Linked DNA regions of Homo sapiens: region 2 is linked to region 1. The links come from fine-mapping of genetic effects on gene expression. A gene starts in region 1. The other region holds a variant in brackets. All regions are shown on one strand. Distances are between the middles of the regions. Region 1 holds the start of PDGFA (platelet derived growth factor subunit A). Region 2 has its middle 35 kb from the start of PDGFA.

The links. PIP is the estimated chance that this variant, and not a neighbour inherited with it, causes the effect.
Region 2: its variant is fine-mapped to the expression of PDGFA in unexposed skin (GTEx, PIP 0.98). The same link has a PIP of 0.9 or more in sun-exposed skin.

Annotation. Positions count from the first base shown.
Region 1 is chr7:515,516-523,839 of GRCh38, forward strand. PDGFA (platelet derived growth factor subunit A) reads right to left here and starts at 4,331. Exons shown (of 6, transcript NM_033023.5): 1 at 3,424-4,331; 2 at 1,879-1,975. The coding sequence starts at 3,486. It overlaps PDGFA-DT (PDGFA divergent transcript), which reads left to right and starts at 4,876. Exons shown (of 3, transcript NR_033963.1): 1 at 4,876-7,801. RefSeq lists enhancers at 107-608, 1,278-2,200, 3,123-4,044, 5,889-6,810 and silencers at 1,358-1,457, 3,301-3,390, 3,851-3,990, 4,271-4,360, 4,461-4,800 and 3 more.
Region 2 is chr7:481,167-489,490 of GRCh38, forward strand. No RefSeq gene overlaps it. Among named protein-coding and RNA genes, the nearest start is that of PDGFA, 35 kb to the right of the region's middle. The variant T/C (reference allele first, on the strand shown) is at 4,426.

The DNA of each region.
Region 1 (8,324 bases):
CCAAGGAGGCCCCCCTATGTTACAAAAGGTCCCCCACCAGGGGCAAGAGAGGAGGTAGATGCCACCCCCATATTCTCACACACAAAGCCTCCCAGACACTAGGAGAATCCTATTCAGACCCCAAAACCTCTCACGGACACAGGAGGGCTGAGATCCACTCTGCATTCCCTGGGGCAGGAGGAGAGAGCTCCTGGGACATGACTGCAGAGGGAATTTGAAACCGGCCAGGACTAGCTTAGGGGCATCCTTGTTTTTTTCTGTTCGGACCCTACGACCTAGAAGCCCCCGGGTGAGGAATGCCATCAGCATACCCCACGAAGCTGCAATGCTAAAGGCGATAATGGGTGGGGGTGGAGGAGGCGGGGCGCCAAGACCAGAATAAGAATAGTCCCAGCAGAAAGTGAATGGCCCATTTCCCTGCAGCTTCCAAAGCCAGTCCCACGAGGAGGCCCAGCTCTCCACAAGCCTCCCCTTCTGCTAGCACCCCCCCCCAGAAAAAGCCCTGAAACCTTCTCCAGGAAGCAGCCCCCCCCCCCCACTTTTCCAAACCCATCCAGGACCAGCGAGATTCAGGCAAGGGATTCCCCCCCACAAACCAGAGCCAGATCCTTTTCCCTAGAGTTATCCACTGAGGGATCCGGTCAAAATCCCCCCGCCCAGCTGTGCTGTGGGAGTGAAACTCTACCGCACCCCCCACCCTCCGCCCCCGATAAGGATCAGCCCAGGGATTTCCTGGGTCAAGAAACTACAGAAACCATCGGCCTTGTTAGAAAATGGTTTTGGCATGAAACGAAAATAGTTCAGGCCTCTCCACCACCATAATTAGGTACAAATTTCCAAATGACTAGACCATGTGATTTCACTTAATCCCCGCATGCCCCCCCTTTTTCAGAGTCCTTTGCAGGGAGAGAAGAATCTTCATGTCACGTAACTTCTTCCAATTCTGCTGCCTTTAGTTACTCTTTTTAACAAGTTCATCGCAGAGCCCCTTTTTAAACCAGGTTAAGGCTCCGACTGGAGTTCCCAGGCCGAGTGCTCATTTTGAAAAGAGCGCCACGCACGCCTGGAAGAGAGACCTCGCCTTCTAGGAAGGGGCTCTCTAGCCCTGAGCGGGCGGGCGGCCACCCTACACCCTCGCCCCTCCCACCCACCCGTGGTCCACCGGGGTCCCCCGGGGTGAGAGGCCCCTTTAACCCTTGCCAACCCGCAGCAAAACTCTGTGCTTGCAAACAAGCTGTGTTCTCTAGTGGCCCGGCCCCAGGGCCCGAGGGTGAGCCGCAAAAATAGCCCCCAGGCAGCAGATGCGTCCAAGGCTTTTCATTGGGTCGTGAAAACAGAAAGACACCGGCTTCTGCAGCCACAGAGGCCCAGCCCTGCGGCAAGAACGCGGCACCAGCTCGCAGGGATTACAGAGGGGGCCGGGCCCTGACCCGGGGGCCGCCTCCGCCCGCCCGCCCGTCGGACCGGGAGCCGCGCCTGCCCTTGGGGCCTCGCTCCGCGGGCTGCCCGCCCGGCGCACGGGCCAGGGCTCTGCGCCCAGGGTCTGGGCCGGATCCTGCCGCTCCCCCGGCCCGAGGGCAGGCGCGGGGCCCGCACACCTGGCGGAGGCCGCGGCTGAACTTTGTGTGACACACGCGGCGTTTTCCTTAAAGGCGAAAACAATCCCGGGGCGAGCGAGCAGCCCTCGGCCGCCGCTGGGAGAGAAAGTGGAGACTGGAAGAGAAACTCCTGACTCATCCGCCCGGGCGCTTATGGCTGGGGATTGGATTCTGACCTTTCGGTGCGCTCCTGCGCGGCGCCCCGCCCGGCCCCAGCTCGGGGCGCACAGGCCGCCCGCCCGCGCCCTCCCCGCGCGCGGAGGGAAGGGGCGCGATTTACCTACGGAGTCTATCTCCAGGAGTCGCTGGAGGTCCCGGATGCTGTGGATCTGACTGCGGGCCAGCCTCTCGATCACCTCGCGGGGGATCTCGGCTTCCTGCAAGCAGAGGCCACACGGTCAGCGCCCGCGGCCCCGACCCCGCCGGCACGCGCCCCCGGCCGCCAGGAGCGCCGCCGCCCCGGGCCCGAGGAGACCCCGCGAGCGCCGGCCGCAGTCCCCGCCCCAGCCCCCGCGGAGCCCTCGCCCCGGCCCTGGAACCAGAAGCCGGGGGTGGGGCTGGAAGAGACCCCAAATTCTCCACCCGCATCCATGTTCCGCCCTTTGCAAAATCAAAGCCCCCCCCCCTTTATATTTTCAGACAAAAGCCCCCGCACTCCGGCCCCTCCACCCGGGGTGTCAGTTACAGAAGGTCTAGGGGGCAGCGAGGGGGCCGAAAGTTTCTGATTTAATAGTGAGATCAACATCTAGAAAGATCAAGTTAAAATGCGTCACGGGTCGGCGAGAGTCACGGCAGCCCTAACACTTTAATCCAGGCAGGGCTTAAATTTCACGCCCCGGAATCCCGGGCCGAACCCGTGGAGAGGTCTCTCCGTCTCACAAACACACGCACGCGCGCGCAGACACACACACGCGCACACACATCTCACTCACACACTCGCCCCACCCCGGGCTCCGGCCCAGCCGCGGCCCTAGCGCCGACTAAGACGCCCAAATCCAGCCGGCGGCCGGGAGAAGAAGCCTCCAGGGAAAGCGAGGGTTAAACTTCCACCTCGCGCAGCTCTCCGTGCCCTGCGGAGACCACCCTCACCTCTGGCCTCCCCCACTCCCCTCCCCGATTTTTAAGGAGAGTCGGGGGTCGCTGGGGAGCCTGAAGCACTAAGTTCCCACGACGGGGGCTGTGGAAAGTCATTCATCACAGCAAAGCTCCCGGGGATGGGGATGGGGATGGGGATGGGGGGGCGGGGACGCCGCGGTGGGAGGGTGCGGACGCCTGGCCCAGCCCCAGCTCGCCTCGCTCAGCCACCTGTAAGCAGGCCCGGGCGGGCGGGACTGCGCCGGCCCTGAGCCCCGCCGGGCTTGGGGACTGGGAACCGAGGGCTGCAGCTTGGCGCTGCCCACCCTGCCCGGCCAGGGGCTTCCGCAGCAGCCGCCCCTACCTATTTATCCGCCGCCCTTCTCTCCTCCCCAGGCTCCGCCGGCTCACACACACCCCCTTCCCCGCTCCCCGCACCCCGCTGCTGCAGCGCCCGCTGCGCCCCAGCTCCCCTTCCCCGGAGAGGACACTGCGCCCCCCGAAGTTTCTGCCCACTCGTCCACCTCGCTGCTCCCCGGTCCCCCCGAGGCAGAGCGACCGACGCAACACGCTGGAAACTCCCCACACACACTTAGGCATGGCAGAAAATAGAACCCAGTTGGGAAAATCTAAACATCGACCACCCTGGCAGGAACCAAAACGCTCTCTGCAGAGCCCGTGGCGCCCCAGCCGGCGGGGGGTGTGCGCCGGAGGAGCCGGCGCAGGGACGGGGCGCGGGGGCGGCACCAACCTCGGCCAGAACATGGGCGAGGTATCCGCAGCCGAGGAGCAGCAGGCAAGCCAAGGTCCTCATCGCGTCCCGAGGCGCTGGCTGCTCGGAGGAGAGGCGAGGCCGCGGGGCGGGCGCTCCAGCCGGTCTCCTGTGGCGGCGAAATTCAGTACCATCCCTTAGGGAGCGCGGCCCGGAGGAGGGTGGCGCGGGGAGCACGGAGCTGGCGGAGCGCGCCCGGCGCGAGCAGTGAGTGCGGAGAGGCAGGCAGCGCCAGCCAGGAGGAGGAGAAACAGGGAGTGCGCGCCCGCAGCGCGGGGAGCCTCCTGGGCCGCCGGGTAGGGGGTGGGGACGGAAGGGGCGGAGGGCGGGGGCTGGGCTTCTTCCTCGGTGCGTTCCCGGTGCTGGCCGCCGCCGCGCTCGCTCCCCGCGCTGGCTTCAGGAGCGACCCGGCCGGTAATTCTGCATATTTGCGGACATCAGCCCCAAGAAGAACTCCGGAGGGAGTCTGGGGCCGCCGCCGCCGCCGCCGCCACACCGATCACCTGCCTGGACGCCTGGCCCGGCCCCGGCTGCGAGCTGCGAGCCGCCCTGCGCGCCCACCGCCGGCCCCGCGCTCGCCTCCGGCCTCCTCTTGCAGCCGCCGCCCGGCCGGGCACAGCGCGGCCCAGCACCCCCTCCGCGGCGCGCCCTCGGCTCCGGCGCCGCGCTCCGCCCTCCGCTCGCCGGGGCCGGGCAGCGCCCGCGGCCGAGCCGCCTGGCAGCCACCACCCGCCGCCCGGGGCCTCGCTGCGCCGCCCGCGCGGGCCTGAGGGCGGGCGCAAGGCCGAGTCGGCGCCTCCGCCGCAGCCGCCGCCGGGAGAGGAGGAGGAGGAGTAGGCGCAGGCCCGGCTCGCCGGAGTTGGGCGGGCTCCGCAGGGCGCGCGTGTGGAGCCGGCCGGCGGCGGGGAGAGGGTTATAGCGCCGCCGCCGCGCCCCTCCCCCGCCCCCGCCCCCGCCCCCCCCCCCCGCCTCCCCCGGATTCCGGGCCTGGGACCCGCACCTCGGAAGCGCTCGGGGTTCGTGCGGACCCGGCAGGGCCCGGGCGCCGCCGCCGCGGCAGGGAGCACACACGCGCTCGCGCAAGCAGCTAAATCCATCAAAGCCCCGCGCCCGGCTCCGCGCCGGGGCTCCGCGCCCCTCCCTCGAGCTTGCCCACCCTCCAGTGCCAGCTGCAATCCTGCGGCACCGGGTGGGGAGGGAGGAGGCCGCCGCAGAAGCGCCGCCGTCGCCGGCTCGCCTCTCTCGGGCCCCAGCGGCGGCAGCGGGCAGCGCCCAGAGCTGCTGCGCCAAAAAGGGCCAGAGAGCCGGTCCCCGCCCCCGCCCCGGCGCTCCGGCCGCTCTCCACGGTTCGGATCCAGGGCCCCAGCCTTCCTCTCTCCATAAAAGGAGGGGGAGTCAGTCTTTGGGGAAGGAGGGGGGCGGGTTTGGGGCACTCACCTGGCGGCTGCCACGCGCCCCCGCCCAGGATCCGAGGCCTGGGGCATCTGAATGAGGACCCTCCACCCACATTTCCACTTGGGAGCGAGCTCCAGTCGGGGAAAGGGCCTGCAGCCCGCCTCGTCCCCACCCTGGGACCCCGCGCCCCCCAGTCCCCCACTCCCGCGCCGAAGGCAGGGCCGCGCCCTGAGCCGGGAAGTCGAGGGGATGGAAGGGAAAGGAGCCACCGGTGAGGGTCCCCCGGGTTCTGAGCCTCCCGCGTCGGGATCCGTGGGGCGCACAGAGCGCCACCTCCGGCCGAGGCGCAGCTCAGAGCGCGATGCGGGGGAGGAACGCGCGCGGAGGCCGAGGTCTGAGCGTGGCTAGACGGCTCCCACGCCGAGAAAGGGCGGGTGCGCCTGGGCTGGATGGATTTCGCCTCCCTAGACCAGGAGGGATTGGACCCTGACTACAGGTCCAGGTGCTCGTCAGTGCCCTGCCAGGGGGTCTACGCGTCCTGGTACCGGGTCCAGCGGGGTGGCGTGCTGTGCAGACCCCGAGGCTAGACGGCCTAGGCCCCTGGAGCCCAGGAGACGCTTCCTTGGGTGAGCAGCGGAGAATCCCGCCCGGCCCAGCCGTCACCCCCAACCCTGTCGATTAAACCCCTGCCCCCGTCGCGGTCGCCCTCCCTCCAGACAAAGGCCGTTAAGGCGCAGCCCCGCGGGCGGTCTTTCATCCCCAGCTAGGCCAGCTCTAGCATTTCAAAGGCCGAATCCGGAGAGCGCTTCGGGGGCTCTCCCCTTCCCCCAAATATTTGGGGAGCGACGCCTCTCCCTCCGCTCCCAGTGGGTCGCGTCTACACGCGCCCTTCCACACACCTGCAGGCCCCCTCCCCACGTCTCTCCCTTCCGTTGGCCGCAGCCCCACACCACGACCCCCGCGGTCAAGCATGCCCTCTGGGTGGTCAGGACCAAGCGGGACCGGGACAGAACCAGGGGAGCCTTGGAAACGTGGAGGAGCCCCTTAAAGCCAGGCCTTGTCCCTCCAGGGGGAACTTGCGGCTTGGGAGGGGACACCCACTGCATGGCTTCTGGAAAGAGCCGGACTCGCAGGGCCAGGACGCAGGCCGGACCCCGGCCTCATTCTTCGGCCAGTTATCCCGGAGTGGCGCGCATCCTGTCTTCCTGGGCCTCGGACTGCTCGCGCGCAGAGGGGGCCCGAGGACACCTCTGTGGGGTTAGAGGACTCGGTAAGACGGTGTGGAAGGCAAGGAGGAAGGTCGCGTTGTATTGGGGATGGGGTACCCGTCCCTCCCAGCTTGAGGGATCCTGGGGGTCCTCGCCGCCTCTGAGGGCCTAGATGGCTGCTTCCCTCGGCTCCCCTGCCCGGCCTGGAGCTACGGGTGCGCCCAGCTAGAGTTTAGGGCCACCTGGGGACGTGCAAGGGGCGCTGGAGCGAGGCGGGGGCTGGGGCGGGGCGTGGGTGCTTCACCCGCGGGGGACGCAGAGCTTAGGCGAAAGCGGTGCAGGCATCTCTCTAATCGCCGGCCGCTATTAAAAATAAAACCGCGACCCGTCGCCATGGCGACCACAACAACAGCGGCCGCGCGAGGGAGGCGAAAACTTGTGCAGCCGCGCGACAGCCGCCTTCTGGGGAGACTCGGGGCACGACGCACCCGGCGTGGGACTGGGACCCCCCTGCCCGGCCCCGCCACATTCTCCGCCGGATCCCCGGAAGACACAAGGAGACGTGGACCCCCACAGGCTTTTTTGGGGGGATTGGGCGTTGAAACCGCAGGGCTGACTTAACCAAGAGGTCACCGACTTGGATAAAAAACCCACGCCCGCGCGGACCCCCCTCCCCGGCCTTCGTTTCCATTCAAACTCCCAGCGTCCTCATTGCAGCCCCTGGGGAGGGGGACGGAGGGACGAGGTGGGTTTCAGGTGCTCGGCCCAGGAGGGGACGGTGCGACCCGGGCCCCGCCGGCGGGTTTTGCGCGCGGAGGCTGCGGCACCTGCCCCGCCCGCCCTGCCGCGATCCTTGCAGACGGGGGCGGTCACATGCTTCTTTCTGGCCAGGAATCGAGTTTCACTTCCAGCCGCTATTAGTCGGTTCACACAGTTCACTGCAAACATTTGATAATGAGGCTAAATATACTCCCGCGTCGGAGGAGGCGTGGGCGTCCCCGCCCAGGCCCGGGAGACAGAGGCGCTGACCCCGGGACAGAGCCTGGCTTTGTGCGGGAGGCAGACGCGCCCCGCGCGCCGCCCCCGAAACATTCGCACCCCATGCTGAGGCGCGCGTCTGGGAGTCCGTGGGCGCCCCGAGGTGAGCCCGGGGCCCCTGGCGGAAGCAGCGGGGAGCTCCCGGCGGGTGCGGGGAGGTGCTGGTGGGAAGCAAGGTGCACCTGGCGGCCTGGGATGTCCGGTCGCCCCCGGAGCCGGTGCATCCGGCCTCTCCCGGCGCGCCCCGACGTGCCCGCGGGCTCATAATTACCGTGAGTCAGGTGCCCCAAATAGGCCGAGCGAGGGGGGCCGTCGCGCAGCAGGGGCGGGTGGCCGGACGTCTGCCCGGGACTGGTTGCCTCCCGCCCCTCCCCAAGACCCTGGCACCCAGGGAGGGCGGGAAAGGCCTTGGCCATTCCTCTGGGTAGGGGACTGGAGAGGGGAAGAAACTTTCGCCGAGTCCAGCGCTGCCCCCTCATACCCATCCCCACCCAGGCTGCGTGTCCGGGGCCCCTCCGGGGCTTGGCACCAGCAGGCACGCAGCGATCGCCGTCGTTGTTATTTAGTAGTAGTAGTAACGGCTGACATTTACAGCGACGTCGATGGCGCCAGGTGCCAAGCTCTTTCCTTGTATAATTTCATGGACACTCACGCATCAACTCTAAGCGAAGACTTGGAGCGGGGCTCAGCACCCCAGGGGTACCTCTGCAACCTCGGTAAATATAGACTATCCTCAATTCGCAGGGGCATTTGTACGTGGGGTGTACAGGCAGGAACAGGAAAGACGCTGTGGCCACCCAGGAGTAGGGGCGGCAGCCAACACCCCCTGGATCCCCAGTTCCAAGGTGCAGGGAGGGGGGCAGAGGCCAGTTCCCTCCGCTCTCTGCCCCTTGACCTTGGCCTTGGTGAGCTCTGTCCCTAGACTGCCCTGGGTGTCTGTTCCCTCATCTGAAAAGCGTGAGGCCCACAGCCGTCACTGCACACAGCTGCCGTCACTGCACACAGCTGCCTCCACTGTCGGGAAGCCTCCCTCCTGCCCACCTGCCCAGGAAAAGCTGCGCTAGCGTGCCCTGGGCAAGCGCCCTGCTGGCCACCTGCCTGCACCTGGGTTGGGGGTGGGGGGACCAGCTGAGCACCCAAATCCTGGCCTCTGCCCCCAGCGCCAGAGCAGATTTCAGAACAATTTGTAATGACGAAACCCCACGTTTCCCTTTATCTCTGGGCAAGGCTTTCTTCGTC
Region 2 (8,324 bases), 34 kb before region 1:
GCCTGGCACTGTCCTTCCTCTCCCCTCAGGCCATGGGCTCCCATGGAAATCAGGCCAGGTCAGAGGGCACCACAGTTTAAGTGTGAGCCCCTGCAGATCTCAGATCCGTGAGCTGGGGACAGGTTCCCTGGGGCTGCAGGAGCTCCAGAGGAAGGCCGAGGTGGGGCCAGCCCGGCAGGACACAGGTACCTGGTCCCGCTAATTAATTGCTTCCAGCAGGCTCTGAAGAGCAGCTGGGCCCAGGAATGCCCCCTCCAGTGAAGACCGACTCTGTCTAACTTGTGAAGGTTTGGATACTGACGGCGAACCGCTCTTAATAAATCTCTCTCTCCTTCTCATGCGCAGCTCATCTGCAGGGCTTGGTGCCTCTGGGGGGCCAGGACGGTGGGCAGCCCTCCTCCCGTCCCCACACTCCTCCCCTCCCCACCCTCCTCCCTCCCTTCCCGCCCTCCTCCTGTCCCCACCCTCCTCCCCTCCCCAACCTCCTCCCCTCCCCACCCTCCCCTCCCCACCGCTGGGGCTGGTCCTGCTTCTTAGTGCCCTCCTGCCTTGAATGAGCACAACCCATGCGGTGGTCCTCCTGCGTGCCACCTTCTCTGTGCTTCACCTGCATCCCTTGCTGGTCCTTGGGTTCAATAACACTGTGGGGAGTCTCCAGAGATCCCACTAGACCAGATCAGGGGCCCTTATGGACCCTCCCCACCCACCTGAGAGGCAGAATAGCCTAGAGATTAAAAACTCAGAAGGGCCAAGTTCACATTCTGACTCCTCCACTTACAAGATTTGGTGTAAGATCCTTCCTGAGCCTGTGCCTCAACTTCTCCATTTTTGAAGCATAGGTCTCTGGCAGCACCTACCCATGGGTGGTTGTGAGAATTAAAACCTAAAGCATCTAACACCCCATCTGCCCCCAAGCAGCACTAGTCACTGCTGTCATTTCCTTCAGGCACTTACTTCAGTCTACGATTATGTTCCTTTTTGTGTATGATTAATGTCTAAATTTCCCTCTTAATGGTTAGCTCCAGGAAGGCAAGAAATTCATGGTGTCTGGCAGAGTGACAGGTCCCTGTTAGGTGCTCAAGAACTTATGTTGTATGGATGGATGGATGGATGGATGGATGGATGGATGGATGGTTGGATGGAGGACAGTTGGATGGATAGATGGATGGATAGATGGATGAATGGGTGGATGGATGGATGGATAGGTGGATTGGTGGATAGTTGTATGAATAATAGACGGCTGAACAGATTGATGGTTGGATAAACGGATGGGTGAATGGGTAGGCAAGTGGGTGGATAGTTGGATGGATGATAGATTGTTAGATAGATGAATGAATGGATGAGTGGATGGAAGGGTGAAAGGGTAAGTAGATGATGGGTAGATGGATGTGTAGGTGAGTGAGTGGATAATTGGATGGACAGATAAATAGGTGGATGGATGGATGGATCAGTAGATAGTTGGATGAATGATTGATGGTTGGAACAGTTGGGTGGATGGGTAGGTGTGTTGATAGTTGGATGGATGATAGATGGTTGGATGGATTGATGGATGGAAGGATGGATGGATGGATGGATGGATGGATGTGTGAATGGATGGATGGGTAAGTGAATGAATGGGTGGATAGTTTGATGGATGGATAGATGATAGATGGATGGATGGTTGAACACATGACTGACTGGATGGAGGGATGGATGGATGGATGGGTAGATCAGTGGATAGTTGAATGAATGATAGATGGTTGGACAGATGGGTGGATGGGTGGGTGGGTGGATACTTGGATGGATGATAGATGGTTGGTTGGACTGATAGATGATGGATGGATGGATGGATGGATGGATGGATGTGTGAGTGAATGGATGGGTAAGTGATGAATGGGTGGATAGTTCGATGGATGGATAGAAGATGGATGGATGGTTGGACACATGACTGGATGGATGGATGGACGGATAGTTGGATGGATGGATAGATAGAGAGATAGATAGATGGATAAGTGGATGGGTGGATGAGAGGATCTAGTACCAGGGGGATGGCTCCACCTTGATATCCAACTGAGGCCCCTGCCAATGGGTCCATCCTGATTTTGAGGAAGAACTTTGGCGGGGACCTGGGCCAGTCCTTGGCCCCCCCACCCGTGGGATATTGGGCGGGCGGGGATAAAGGGACAGCCTCGGTATCATGGACAAAGGGGCTGCACAACATGGGTGGGATGGGAAGACTGGCGGTGAAATACGCGGGTATGGGTTAAAAAATGGATGGATGGATGGATGGATGGATGGATGGATGAGTGGATGGATGGATGGATGGATGGATGGATGGATGGATGAGTGGATGGATGGATGACAGGAACTAGGACCAGGGGGATGGCTCCACCTTGATGTCCAACTGAGGCCCCTGCAATGCGCACCATCTGATTTGAGGAAGTATCTCTGCTGGAACTGGCCAGTACTTGCCCCCTCACTGTGGAATTTGGGCTGAGCCTGGAAAGCTGCTCCAAGCTATTTGCAAAGGGGTTTCCAGCCTTGGATCCCTAAAGGCTGCCAGAGAGAGGCTCCTGTGGTTCCCTGGGACAAGGAGACCTCCTTCATCCTCCATGCCTGTTTCTCAGACAGTGAAGACAAGGCACAAATGTGTGCTTTGGAGGTGGCTGAGGGGCTCAGACACTGCAGTGTGCAGGCGCCTGCCAGGCCTGATGTGGTGATGCTCGCTCAGGGCCTCTAGGGCAACCCAGGGTCATGTTTGATTTGACGAAGGGGTTAAGTGCGCTGCTCTTTAAAAGCCGGAACACAGACAATGTGAAGCTTCCTCCCTCAGACCCACCACATTGGTGGGCTTTACTTCAGCCCTAGGGACTCCTTCTGTCCCCTCACCCCTCTCAACTCCAACCCCCCCTCCCCAGACTGCAGAGAGGGGCCGGTTCTTGCCAGAGTCGCTCTTAGCCGTTTTGTGAAAAATCCATTTATTGTCTTCATTGCTTGGGAAGTTATAATCTTGAGGCTGCAGCTTCCTAAGGCGTTGCCATGGAGATGAATTTTCTGTCATAAATAAAAGTATTCTGGGGTCAGGAGATCTCAAGCATAACTAGGACAGATTTTGAGGGGGAAAATGCAAGAATTTCAGAAGCACATGAGATGATTTGGGCTGCCTTTTCCGGAGGGTGTTTTTTAGGCTGTCCTGAATTTGGCCTCTAGATGTGGGACCGTCCCTCTGCCGTACCCCCAACCCCGTTCCCCCAAGCCGACACTGTGTCTGCCTGCCCCTCCCCTCCTCCACCTGCTCAGGGCCAGAGCCTTGGGGGACCTGGTTTGGAAATCCAGGTTGGGGTGACGTCTGGGGTCACCCAAAGACGGGCTGGCTCCCAGTGTGTCCTCAGACAAGCCTTTCTGTCCCTGGCCCTAGACCCTGCCTGGGTGAGGGCCTCATTCACTCAGCCTAGGATTTTTGGAACATTCCTCACACGCCTCCTACGGGCCAGGGCTCACTCAGGTATTTCCCCTTGGGCTTGGGGCAGGCAGGGGGACACTCCCACTCCCGCATGACCCCTGCTTCCGAGGGCCCTGACCCCACCCCCACTCTTGCTCACTTCCCACCAGCCCCCATGGACATTAGCTTTAGGGATTTCCTTTTGTTCAGGGTCGCTGCAGGTCTGTGTTCGAGAAGGTGGGGGAGGCGGGACTGGAGCCCGGGAGGAAGGTATGCAGGGCTGAGGGGCCTCTGGAAGCCACCCAAGCCGACAGCCTCCGCCAGCAGTCAAGGGCTGTTTGCCAACCCCCATGCACCCCCTCATTAGGTAAACACAGAGTCCTCCATCAGCACAGGGCCCCAGAGCCATCCCTTGCACAGAGGCCCCAGGGTCCCCCGCGCTCGAGGGCCCCCCATGACCCTGGGACTGGGACTGCGGCACCCTGGGCCTCTCCTCCCAGCCCCGAGGCTCTCACTGGAGGACCCATCTTCCAAGGCTGCCACAATCCCAGGAGGCGGCTCCAGCCCCAGTAGCTCCAAAAAAACGAATGGAGAGGTGAGGAGGGAGAGAACAAAAGAAAGGAGGGAATGAAGGAGGGAGGAGGCTACGGGGTGAACCCTTTGCAGTTTGGACCTCAGACTGTGGTCCCCTCACCTACCTCCCCGGACAGCACCACCCTCCCTTCCCACCTTTGATGGGTCCCTGTCCCAGGAGAAAGCCCATAGAGACATCACACGGGAAGATCCTGCAGGAAGCCCTTCCTCCCTTGCAAACACTCGCAAAAAACGGCCCTTGATCATGGAGAAACAGGCTTCCAGGGCCCCCAGGGGCTGGGGTCCACGGTTGCAGGCCAGCAAGCCACAGCTCCCAGGCTGGGGCTCTAGTGAGTCTAGCCTCCCCAAGACCCACTTCTGCCAGGGGTTCTCTGCCTCCTGATAAATAACTGTGACACTATCTGCCCACA[T/C]CCCTTGCTGAGCAGCAAAATCAACACAGGACAGGCTGTGACTCGCCAGGCCACGAGGAGCTGCAGGACGTACACACTGCATCGCCATCTGTGGGGCTTGGACAGCCACAGGAGGGACATGGCCCCAGAAGCCTGGCAGGGCATCCCACTGCGAGGGCCCCTCAGTGCCAGCTCTCGTGGCCTCTCACCAAGTCTGGCCCCAGCCCAGCTTTCCATCGCCACAAGCTTGTGCAGTCCACACCCGCCACCAAGAAGGGCGCTGGGGGTTGGGGCCAATGCCAGGTGGGGCAGGGAGGGGACGCTGTGGGAGGGAGGGGTGGCTGAACAGGATAAGGGCCCTGGAATGCACGGCTCCACCCCTGGATGGCTGTGTCCTCGTCCACAGAACAGGGACAGGGCCGCAGAAGGGCACTGTCAGGAGGCGGGATCCCTGTACCCTGATGACTCCCGGGAAGCGGCAGAAATCACGGTCATGAAGGATTCGTAACCGGGGCAGGGCTCTTCTCAGAGCGGGAGAAACAGACAGCGTCCAAGGAGCACCCCACACTGTCCCAGCTGATAAATGAACACAGCTGCAGACCATAGCAGGGTCCTCAGTGAGTCCGAGCTCTCCTGACTCCGCGTCGGACTGAAGCATCCTCGAGGGTGTCTATATGAGCCTGTGTGTGAGCTTGTGTGTGAATGTGTGCGTGCCTGTGTGTGAATGTGTGTGCCCGTGTGAGCCTATGTGAGCCTGCATGTGAATGTGTATGCCTGTGTGTGAATGCATGTGCTTGTGTGTGAGGCGCGCTTGTGTGTGAGGCATGTGAATATGTGAGCCTGCATGTGCCTGCATGAGCCTGCGTGTGCCTGCGTGAGCCTGCGTGTGACTGTGTATGCCTGTGTGAGCATGTGTGTGCGTGTGACTCCATGAGCCTGTGTGTGAATGTGTGAGCCTGCATGTGAATGCGTGTGCCTACGTGAGAATGCGTGAGCCTGTGTGTGAATGTGTGTCCCTGTGTGTGGACCTGCACGTGAGTGAGTGTGCCTGCATGTGAATGCGTGTGAATGCATGAGCCTGTGTGTGAATGTGTGAACCTGTATGTGAATGTGTGTGCCTGTACGTGAATGTGTGTGGTGCTCCATGTGTTTTTGTGTCTATGTGTTTGTCTCTGTGTGGCTGTAACTTTCTGTGACTCTCCAAAAACCCTGATTCAAAACCAAAGACACCACAGGAAAAGAGGACTACAGAACAATTTCCCACTTAAGCATGGACACAAAAATCCTTAACAAATGATTAACAAGTAGAATCAATATAAAAAGAAACGTATTTAATGACCAAGGTGGGTTAATCTCAGGAATGCAAGGTTAATGTAGCATTTGAAAAACTAATCAATGTAATTCACAATAATAGAATTATGTAAAAAAAAATCACATGGTAATTTTAACAGATGCAGAAACCATACAATGAAATGCAATAGATGCAAAAAAAATGGACACAATTCAACAACTTTTCATGATTTAAGAAAAACAAAAAACCCTCTCAGAAAACTAATAGGAGAAGCAAACCTCCTCAACTTCATTAAAGGCATCTACAAAACAGCTACAGCTAACATCTTACTCAATGTTGAAAGGCTCATTGCTTTCTAGCTAATAACAGGAATAAAGCAAGATTGCCCATTCTATTGTCACTTCTATTTGTTCTGGAGGTCCCAGCCAGTACAACAAGGCAAGAAAAAGAAATAAAAGGCATACAGAATGCAAAAGAAGAAATACAACAGTTCTTATTTCCAGATAACATGATCATGTATGTAGAAAACTCAAAGGAATTTCAAAAGAATTCTACTAAAACTAATAAGTGAATTTAGCAAGGTTGCAGGATCTAAGGACGATATACAAAAACAAATTGAAATTGAACAACTAGACCAAAGATCAACCAGCAAGTAGAAGACCTGGACAACATCATACACCAACTCGATCTTATGTGCATCTACAGAACACTCCATTCAACCATAAAGGTATACACATTCTTTTTCTTTTGGAGATGGAGTCTCGCTCTGTCACCCAGGCTGGAGTGCAGTGGTGCAATCTCAGCTCACTGCAGCCTCCACCTCCCGGGTTCAAGCGATTCTCGTGCCTCAGCCTCCTGAGTAGCTGAGATTACAGGCATGCCCAACCATGCCCGGCTAATTTTTGTATTTTTAGTAGAGACAGGGTTTCACCATGTTGGCCAGGCTGGTTTCAAACTCCTGACTCAAGTGATCCGCCTGCCTTGGCCTCCCAAAGTGCTGGGATTACAGGTGTGAGCCACTGCGCCCATCCAGAAACACACATTCTTTTCAAGTGCACGTGAAACATTCTCCAGGATAGACCATATGTTTGGCCATAAAAGAAGTCTCAATAAATTCAAAATAATGAAAATCATACCAAGTATGTTCTCTGACCATAATGAAATAAAATTAGAAATCATTAATAGATGAAAATTTATGAAATTCACAAATATGTGGAAATTAAACAACACACTCCTACATAACCAATAAGTCAAAGAAGACATCCCAGCGAAAACCAGAAAATACTTTGAGATGAAAGAAAACTCAACTTACCAAAGCTTATGGGATGCAGCTTAAAACAGTGCTTAGAGGGACATTTATAGCTAGAAACTCCTAATTTTTTAAAATAAAAAAGAAAAGACGTCAAATCAATAACTTAATCTTCCATCTTTTAAAAAATGGAAAAAAAAACCAAACCAAACCCAAAACAAGCAGAAAAATGAAATAACAAAGATTAGAGAGCTACTTGAAAGGCTGAGGCAGGAGGATCACGTGAGCCCAGTTCAAGACCAGCCTGGGCAACATAGCAAGACTCTGTCTCAAAAAAAAAAAAATTACGGGGGAAATAAATTTTAAAAATAAAGAGTAGAAAAACAATAGAGAATATTAACAAAACCAAAAGTTGGTTCTTGAAAAAAATAAAATAGACAAAACTTTAGCTACACTGACCAAGAAGTAGACAGAATAATCAAATTACTAAACTCAGGAATGAAAAGAGGGAACATTAGTATCAGCCTTACAGAAATAAAAATAATAAAGGAATGCTGTGAACATTGTGTGCCAAGAAATTAGATAACCTAGATGAAATGAACAAATTCCTAGAATCACAAACTGACTCAAGAAAAAGAGGCCCGAAGAAATATGAAGACTTATAGTAAGCAAAGAGATTGAATTAGTAATCAAAAAACTTCCTACAAAGAAAAGCCCAGGACCAGATGGCTTCACTGGTGAATGCTACCAAATATTTAAAAAGGAATTAACACAAATGCTTCCCAAACTCTTTGAAAAAATAGAAGAGGAAAGAACTCATTCTGTGAAGCCAGTCATAACCTGTCACCAAAACCACACAAAGACATCACAAGAAAACTACAGACTACTATCCCTCATGTATAGACACACAAAATTTCAATAAATAAAAATATTAAATAAATAAAATATTAAAAAGCCAAATCCAGCAACATACAAAAATAATGACTGTGCTCCATGACCAAGTGGGATTTATTCCAGGAATGCAAAGGTGGTTCAACATACAAAAAAAAAATCAGTGTAATATACCATATTAACAGAATAAAAATAAAAATCACATGATCATCTCAACTGATGCAAAAAAAGGACAATCTAATATTTTTTCATAACAAAAATAAATAAACACTCAACAACTAGGAATAGAAGGGAACTTTCTCACCCTAATAAAGGACATCTACATAAAACCCACAGCTAGCTAAGGCAAAAGACTTAGAACTCTTCCCCTAAGATCAGGAGCAAGACAAAGATGTCGGCTTCAGCCACTTCTAGTCAACATTCTACTGGAGGTACTTTCTAGCCAGGGCAATTATAAATGAAAAGAAAACAGTTTTTACAAAGAACAAA